Homo sapiens: one gene and its partner. The protein of the gene in region 1 interacts with the protein of each later gene in a pairwise test. Each region holds a gene or a part of one and is shown on either strand. Other genes may lie near its edges. The genes, in order: SLC12A5 and F2RL1.

The links.
Region 2: the proteins of SLC12A5 (region 1) and F2RL1 interact in a two-hybrid assay, tested with the Homo sapiens proteins (one large-scale study listed by BioGRID and IntAct).

The regions. Positions count from the first base shown.
Region 1 is NC_000020.11:46,042,433-46,046,239, reverse strand, and holds part of SLC12A5 (solute carrier family 12 member 5), read right to left. Parts: intron 3,088-3,807; coding exon 2,917-3,087; intron 2,608-2,916; coding exon 2,509-2,607; intron 2,365-2,508; coding exon 2,307-2,364; intron 1,275-2,306; coding exon 1,100-1,274; intron 363-1,099; coding exon 244-362; intron 1-243. UniProt on the Homo sapiens protein: Mediates electroneutral potassium-chloride cotransport in mature neurons and is required for neuronal Cl(-) homeostasis.
Region 2 is NC_000005.10:76,817,432-76,821,881, forward strand, and holds the start of F2RL1 (proteinase-activated receptor 2 preproprotein), read left to right. Parts: upstream 1-1,598; 5' UTR 1,599-1,751; coding exon 1,752-1,833; intron 1,834-4,450. UniProt on the Homo sapiens protein: Receptor for trypsin and trypsin-like enzymes coupled to G proteins.

The DNA of each region.
Region 1 (3,807 bases):
TCAGGAGGTGGCCAGATCATGCTGTGGTGCTTAGGAAGGGGTTTCAAGCCAAATACCCTCACAACACACCCTAATAACACGTGTGGATGAATCTCTCTATAACAAACGATGGGCTTCTATGACCAATGGGGAACTTCCTGGGGTTGCTAAAGTGTCTGGGTGGGTTGTCACAGGTAACGGCTGCAGGATTCAGATAGAGAAACACCCTGAACCAGGGGGGAGGGCAAGAAGTCAGGCACGCACATAGAGAGGATGGGGGCCACCTCGTCGAGGGATGCAATGAGGATGCCAATCTCGCAGATGCAGGCAGTCAGGAGCAGGGCCCAGGTCGGCTCTCCATTGGCCTTGCCATGGCCAAAGACCTGGGGAAAGAGCAATCATCATGGGACTGAGACCTCAAGGATTTCTCAGCCCTCTCCCCTAGCCTCGGGAACCAGTGGAGTAGAGGCAGGAATCCTATCACCAAAGAGGAGGAAGGGAGAGGATGCATTTCTCTTCCTCCAGGAGAATGCAAATGGATAACAGGCTTTCGCTGCATCTTGCCCACCCTGAGATCGGCACCCCAGTGCCATGAAGTTCAAATGATCCCTAGAGGGGGAAAGCAGCTGCAGAGGACCAGATGGGAGAGGAGCTGTCAGGAAGCCAGCAAGCCACCACGACCCTGTGCTCCATCCGTCTTTTTTTTTTAGCACCATGGTAAAAGCTACCCTTTTCTTGCCCTTTGACTGCCTCCCCAGGTCTCCGACCAACCACAGTGCCAAAACAGGGCCATTTATTTTTTCCCCAAGAGCAGACAGTGCTCCAAGGGATGCACTGACCATGGGCCAAATCCCAAGTAAGACACACTTATCCTTCCATCTGGGTGAAGGAGAAGCCACAGACAGGGCACCACCCAATGCCCTGCCCAACTCCTGACACCCCACACCACCCTGTCCCTGTGCCTCAGACCCTGCCAGATAGGCCTGGCCAGTGCAGTACAGAGCAGAAGTGGCCCAGGAGGTAGTCTAAGGCTGGTTATGGCCCTGGGTCACTGTGTGGTCTCTCTGGGCAGGGGCCTGGCTGGTCTACTGAGGGTGGGCTGTTCTTCTCCCACACTGACCTGCAGGAAGGGCACAATGCCATCCCTCGAGATGGCCTGCAGCAGGCGTGGGGCCCCCGTGAGGCTCTGCAGCCCAGCCCCACAGGTGGAGAAGAAGGATCCGATGACAATTACCCATGGAGATGGCCAGGCCAGAGTGCCCACCACGAGGTTGCCATTCACAGCTTCGCCAAACCTGGAATGATGTGGACAGGAGATGCCAGGTGAGCAGTGCTGCCTGGATTTCCAGGGCAGGTCTCCATACCAACTACAGAACCAACTGTGTGCCTGCCACAGGACTAAGTTCTGTAAGGGTGACAGGGGAGGCAGAGCCCCAAATGTTCCATTGTTTTTTCCTTGATAAAATAATTCTCTAATTTCCTGATACTGAAAACCAGGCCTCTAGGCCTGTCTCCAGCATAGGTCCCAGCCCCACGTCCCCCACTGCATTCCCTTACAGAAGCCTGGTGGTACCAGTGGAAAGTGATTCTGAGAGGACCTCCTACACCACCCGGCCAGTTGTGTGTGCTCATGCCCTTCAGACATGAGTGCTCCAGGACAGTGAGCACTCACAGCTGCAGGCATGCGCACACATTTCTCCCCTCCACCCTGGCTCCCCATTGCCTGGAATGCCCTTCCTCCAAGCTGCCTAATCTCTGCTCAGCCTTAAAAGCAGGAAGGATAAGTGAGATAAAGTGTATAAGACACTTCTAGCCTCCCCTCCTCTGAGAAGACTTCCCTGGGAAGATCCCTAAGGACTGGACTGAAGCCCCTGGGCTTTCCTGTATGGCCACCCCTACCGACTGCACTTAAAGTCTGTTGGCCAGTATAGACCCACCAAGAAGAGCTCCTTCAGTACAAAAACCATGTGTTATTTATCTGTGCTGCCTCCAGAATCTCGGAGGGAACACAGATAAATACCACTCCTGTCTGTGTGACCAACACATGGACATTCAGTAAATGTTAGACACACTATTGAATTAATCCATTTTAAAGAAAAGGAAAGTATCATTATCCTAAAGGAAATGAGACACCATCCAAGCTTCTCAAACTGGAGTGACAGAAGGAAGATGAAATATAAGAAGATGACTTTGCAAGCAATCCCCGTGGCCTCCCTCCCACAGGCCCCTCACACAGGTCCCAGCACCTCCTGATGGGTCTGTTTCCCAGAACTCAGCCTTCTATACCCACCCCTCCCCCAGAATAGGATCAACCCCAATTATCTTACTTGTCCCGCAGGACGACCCCCTCAATGCAGGCCCCAAACAGAACAACGGAGCTGATGTCTGCAGCAGAGGATAAAGGAGAATCCCCACGGTTCAGTCCTCCCCCTCCCCACCCTTCCTGCACCAGCAGGTAAGGCAGCAAGTTCAGCTGCCCTCCCTCTTGCCCTCCCCCGAGGGTGGTCCCAGCACAGCTGTGCAGGATACAGACAGCAGAGGTGGTGGCGATGGCCAGGATGGTGCCAGTGGGGATTGACTTCTGGGCATCCCTCAGGTCCCCAGAGCGGTTAGAACCAGCCATGATCCCTGCAAAACAGAAGTGCAGCTAGGACTCAAGCCAGGGCCACAGGAGACCAGACAGATGAGAAAAAAGGGCACCACCCTCAGGGTCAGTGAGTCTGGGATCTAGTCCTAACATACTGGCTTGTGTGAGACCTTGGACATGTTACTTAGCTTCTCCTGGCCTTAATTCCCTCATCTCTCCAATGGGAAGTGAAATGTTACGGTTGCTTTCATGATGGGGTTTTTGGACTAAGAAATTCCCAACATCATCATCGACTCTCTCTTCCCCATCCACTCACAGGCAGAGTCTTCCCTCTCTGAGCTCCCCTTCACCTGTGACTGAGGGGAAGTAGATGCCAACCAGCAGGGTGAAGTAGGAGGTCATATCACTGAAGACATAAGGGTGGTCCATGTCGATAGGAGTGCCATCGGCCAGGCCCACCGAGGTCATCCCACTCCTCTCCACAATCACGCCCTTGGTCAGGTAGGAGCTCCAGAGGTTCTCTGTGGGGAGACAGAATGCTCAGGGGGAGGCCAGCCATAAGGGGACCAGAGCTCTGGGACCAGGAGGTGGGAGGGGGCAAAAAGTCAGGGTCAAGATCAACCCCATCTCACTCTCCCCGGCCTTATCTCTATTTCATTTCCACTGACATTTCCTAAGCTCCTGATTTGGGCCAGGCTATGTACAGACCTTTCACAGACTAATCAGACCCAGTCACTACCATCAAACAGTCCAATCTAGTGGAGTAAATGAGCAAATAAAGACCCATCTCAGATTGAGTCGATGTGTCCCAAATTGATCTCACCCTCCACCCACCCCAAACCAGCTCCTTTCCTGCATCCCATATTTCAGTAAATGGCACCATCATCAATTCTGACACCCTGCCCTACACTGCTCCCTCTCCCCTTCCCCAACTTCAATACCACCTCCAACTTCTGTCCTTTAACCCCTCCTTAATATTTCTTAAATATGCCCCTTCTCTCCATTCCAAGGTCTCTCCACTGTGGCACTAGTGACACTCCCGGCCAGATAATTCTTTGCTGTGGAGGACTGTCCTATAGCATTGTAGGATGTTTAGCAGCATCGTGGCCTCTACCTACTAGATGCCAGGTACACCCCTCCAGTTTTGACAACCAAAAACGTCTGCAGACACAGCCAAATGTTTACTGGGTGGCAAAACAGCCCTGGTTGAGAAGCACTGCAGTAATTCCCACAGACATCAT
Region 2 (4,450 bases), on another chromosome or scaffold:
CTTAGAGAGGATAAGTAAACTTGGGATCACACAGATGTCAACAAGGGGAGAAGCCTGTCCGGGTGTGGTGGCTCATTCCTGTAATCCCAGCACTTTGGGAGGCTGAGTGGGGAGGATCACATGAAGCCAGGAGTTCCAGACCAGACTGGACAAGATAGGGAGACCCCACTTCTATTTTCTAATAGAAATTAAAATAAAAAATAAAGAAAATTTCTTTATACATTGAGCTGAAATTAAACCCCACTGTGGCTTCCACCAATTTTTGCTCTCTGGAGCAACTCAAAACACATCTAAATCCTCTTCTACAAGCGAATCCTTTAAATATTTGAAAATACCTATGTCTCTCTTCTGTGCTCTTCTGGTACCAATAGTTTAAATGGGTAACAGTAGACTTTGTTTTATTCAATCTTTTAAAAAGCAAATAAAAAGTAAGACATGCTGGGTGCGGTGGCTCACGCCTGTAATCGCAGCACTTTGGGAGGCGGAGGTGGGCTGATCACGAGGTCAGGAGTTCGAGACTAGCCAGACCAACATGGTGAAACCCCGCCTCTACTAAAAATACAAAAATTAGCCAGATGTGGTGCACGCCTGTAACTCCAGCTACTCGGGAGGCTGCGGCCAGAGAATTGCTTGAACCCAGGAGACAAAGTTTGCAGTGAGCCGAGATCACGCCACTGCACTCCAGCCTGGGAGACAGAGCGAGACTCCGTCTCAAAAACAAAAAGTAAGACATTACCAATATGATGCCAACCCTCATGCACTCATCCCCAACCCCACACTTCTCTTCTCCCACCCCTTCTATCTGCTTTTGTATTTATTTAGCCTATGGGATCCCAATGCAGAGGAGCCCTGGTGGACGCATTTATAGTGCAGCGATGAATAGAAGACAGTGATAGTCTTATACTGGAGTTGAAATGTGATAAACATTTATACACTGTGTTTATAAGTCGTGTAACTCTGGCCAATTTATCTGGTCTTTCTAAGCTCACTTTCCTCGTCTGTAAAATGGGAAGAATAATCATACTTATTGCGCTGGTTGTTATGGGGATTAAGCAAGATAATTCTCTAAAGCTTTGGCACTTGGCGCTGAAAGTAGCCATTCCATGTCTTCTTTCCCGCCCCGCCTCTTGTGCTCCCCACCGCTTTCGTGATGTCCGCAGTTGCCCACCTGCCTCTACAATAAAAAACGCATCCCTCCTCCTGCAGGGTCCACCGCACCGGGAAGCCCTGTCTGTATCAGTTACCAACCACAATTGCAGTGAGTACGAATCGTGGCTTTCCCACAGTCAGGAAAGGCAAGGGAGACCGACGACCCGCTTCTCTAGGAGTAAGTAAAGATTAAAGGTAGTTCGCGGTATAGCCTAGGCAGGGATTAACCCGTGGTCCCAGCGCTCCTGCTATTTGCATTCCAAAGCAGACACCTCATGCGCTCAACCCCGCCCGCAGGCGGCTCCCGCAGTCTAAGGGACCTGGCGCGAGTCCGGGAAGCGGAGGGCGCAGCTGCGCAGGGAAGGGGGCCGGGGGCGGGACCAGGGCGCGCGTTCCGGTCCCGGGGCGTGGCCTCCCGCAGGTGAGTACGCTGCTCCTTCGGTTTCCCTGAAACCTAACCCGCCCTGGGGAGGCGCGCAGCAGAGGCTCCGATTCGGGGCAGGTGAGAGGCTGACTTTCTCTCGGTGCGTCCAGTGGAGCTCTGAGTTTCGAATCGGCGGCGGCGGATTCCCCGCGCGCCCGGCGTCGGGGCTTCCAGGAGGATGCGGAGCCCCAGCGCGGCGTGGCTGCTGGGGGCCGCCATCCTGCTAGCAGCCTCTCTCTCCTGCAGTGGCACCATCCAAGGTGAGAAACCTGGCCAAGGAGGGCTCTTATCTCTGAGGAGCTGGGGTCCTGGGCACGCTGGGCAGACGGTGGGATCCGGGCAGGTGTGCGAAGGCTGTTCTGCTGCCGGCACCCATCTCTACGAATCCCTTAGCCTCCCCTTGGTGGCTTTGATGTGAGGTCTCTGCGCCAAGGAGGCACCCAGGTGGGACATGCGGGAGCAGCTGAAGTCAGCGGAGCCGGGCAGAGGCAGAGATTTCCCCAAAGACCCCACTTCCCGTAGAGGCTGTCATGCTGGGCACCTCCAGGCCCCAGCGTGGGTTCGGGGAAAGGGAGGGAAGGAAGGAGTAGCTGTGTCTAAAGGGTACGCAGAGGACCTAGTCCCCTCCCCGGGCTTGGTTGCTTTGTAAACACTAAGTCATTAAGAGCTTTTTGCCAACTCCGGAGACTTCCTCCGCTGGCCCCGCGGGGCCGGTGGGGTTAGCGAGCTGATTGCGCAGGGCAGGGCGGAGTGGGTGGGAACCCGCGGCCCGGGAGCCTTCTAGGTTGTTTTTTGCGTCCCTCTCCAACTGCTGGAAGCCTTTCTTCGGGTTCTGGCCCCTGCGTTCGAGACCCACCCGGGTCCCGCTGCTCCTGGCACCCACAGTGGAAGGCCCGGGGTATGAAAGTCAGGGCCGGTCCCTGATGGGTTCTGGTGGTAATGAGCGCTCAGGCCCGTTGGGCGCCACGAGGATTTACGAGCGGAACTTTTTGGACCCTGCCTTATATTTGACCAGTTGACCCTCTGGGCCTGGGGTTCCGGGACTTTCCTAGTGTGCCACCCGGAGCGGCCACTGGCTGCCACCCAGGTCTGCAGGCCAGAGGCTGGCTGGCCTGGGAACAGAGCAGCACTTGCGCCCGGCCGTCGCGTTCCTTGGATGTGCTGCTCCGGGTGTGCTCGAACTTGTATTGCTGGGAGTGTGTTCTTCCGGGCCCAGCAGGCCTCGCTGTGGCCGTGGGGGATGTTTGACCTGCGATCGCGCCACTGTGATCCTAACCGAGGCCCCTCTGTTTGGGGCAGCCTGGGTAGCAAAGGGAGCTTTTAATTTCCCTCAGAAATGCGCATTTCTCACTTTTATCCTCCTCTTCATAAAGACGAAGTAAAAGAGCAAGTCACAGTGGGTTGGAATTAGATGGAAGAATGTGATTCTTTTCCCTCTGCAGTTAGGGAAAAGGGTGTTAATGGTGTAAGCTTGAAAACTGTGCACCGCTGGTATATTTTTTTTTCTTAATCAGCATCAGAATAAAGGCATTTAGTTCCAGGAAGTATTGAAAACTGTAATGGACACCTCTCCTCTATGTCCTTTAAAGTTGGAAACTTAAAATTCAGGAGCAAAGGTTAGTATGTGCAAACTTTAAAAAAATACATGTTGGTATAGCTGATTCAACATCTTTATGATTCAGAGATCCCTGTAGGAAGCATGCCCCGATTATTTGTCTTGTTCTTGTTTACTACTCTTGGGGGATTGGGAGATCCCTGGATTATAAGGCGAACTTGATTTAACAATAAGGAAAAATCAGGTTACTTGTTAACTATAGCCACTTAATATTGCACCTTGTTCCTCATCCTCCCCCCACCATACTTTTATTCCCTTGCAAAGTAACTTTCCCAAAGGGTTAGTGAAGTAACACTGACAATTGATTTAGGCAGATGGAGCTTTCCTCCCACCTTAAAACTAAATTGATTTTAATAAGAAATACAGTGTTAGCAAAGCTTTTCTGCCCTCAGGGTGGGTCTTTGCTCACTCGCTTTTTAGCCGGTCCTTCTGCGTGCCCCTCAGGTGGCTGCAGGGCCGATTTGGGGTTTGATTTTCTTCCCAAAGCCTCACTCCAAAAGACTGCCTCATAGAAACGAACTCAGCCGAGATCACAACCTTCTCAGGGTACAGGTGAAGGACACTGAATTGAGGAGGCAAGGCAAGGAAAACACTTGGAAATCAGGGCTTCTCTTTCCCTTTACAATAGTAATTGATAATTATTTGGGTAAACATGCTTAATATGTGTCCTCACTGCATCGTTAACTCCTGGAGGCAGGGGGCCCTACCATCCTTTCCATCACGTCTAGCATAGTCTCATCACCTACGGGACCTCAGTAAATAGCAAATGAATGAAGTGAGGAGTCTTGCCCAGAGTACCCTGGCTGGTCCATGTGGTGTTCATTTCAGTCAGCTTCTCTCTGCCACTTACTTATTTTTTTCCACCATGTTACAGGCCTAGGTCATTCCATTTATCTTTTGGAGACTGGAACTTCTGTTTTCTTTATAATTGGTTTGGTGGTTTTTTTTTGTTTTTTTGGTTTTTTGGGTTTTTTTTTTTTTTGACTCTCATTCGGTTGCCCAGGCTTGAGTGCAGTGGTGCAATTTTGGCTCATTGCAACCTCCACCTCTCCCGGGCTCAAGGAAGTCTCCTGCTGCAGCCTCCCGAGTAGCTGGGACGACAGGCACGCACCACCACCCCCAGCTAATTTTTGTATTTTTAGTAGAGACAGGGTTTCACCATATTGGTCAGGCTGATCTCAAACTCCTGACCTCAGGTGATCCACCCACCTTCAGCCTCCCAAAGTGCTGGGATTACAGGCATGAGCTACTGCGCCCTACCT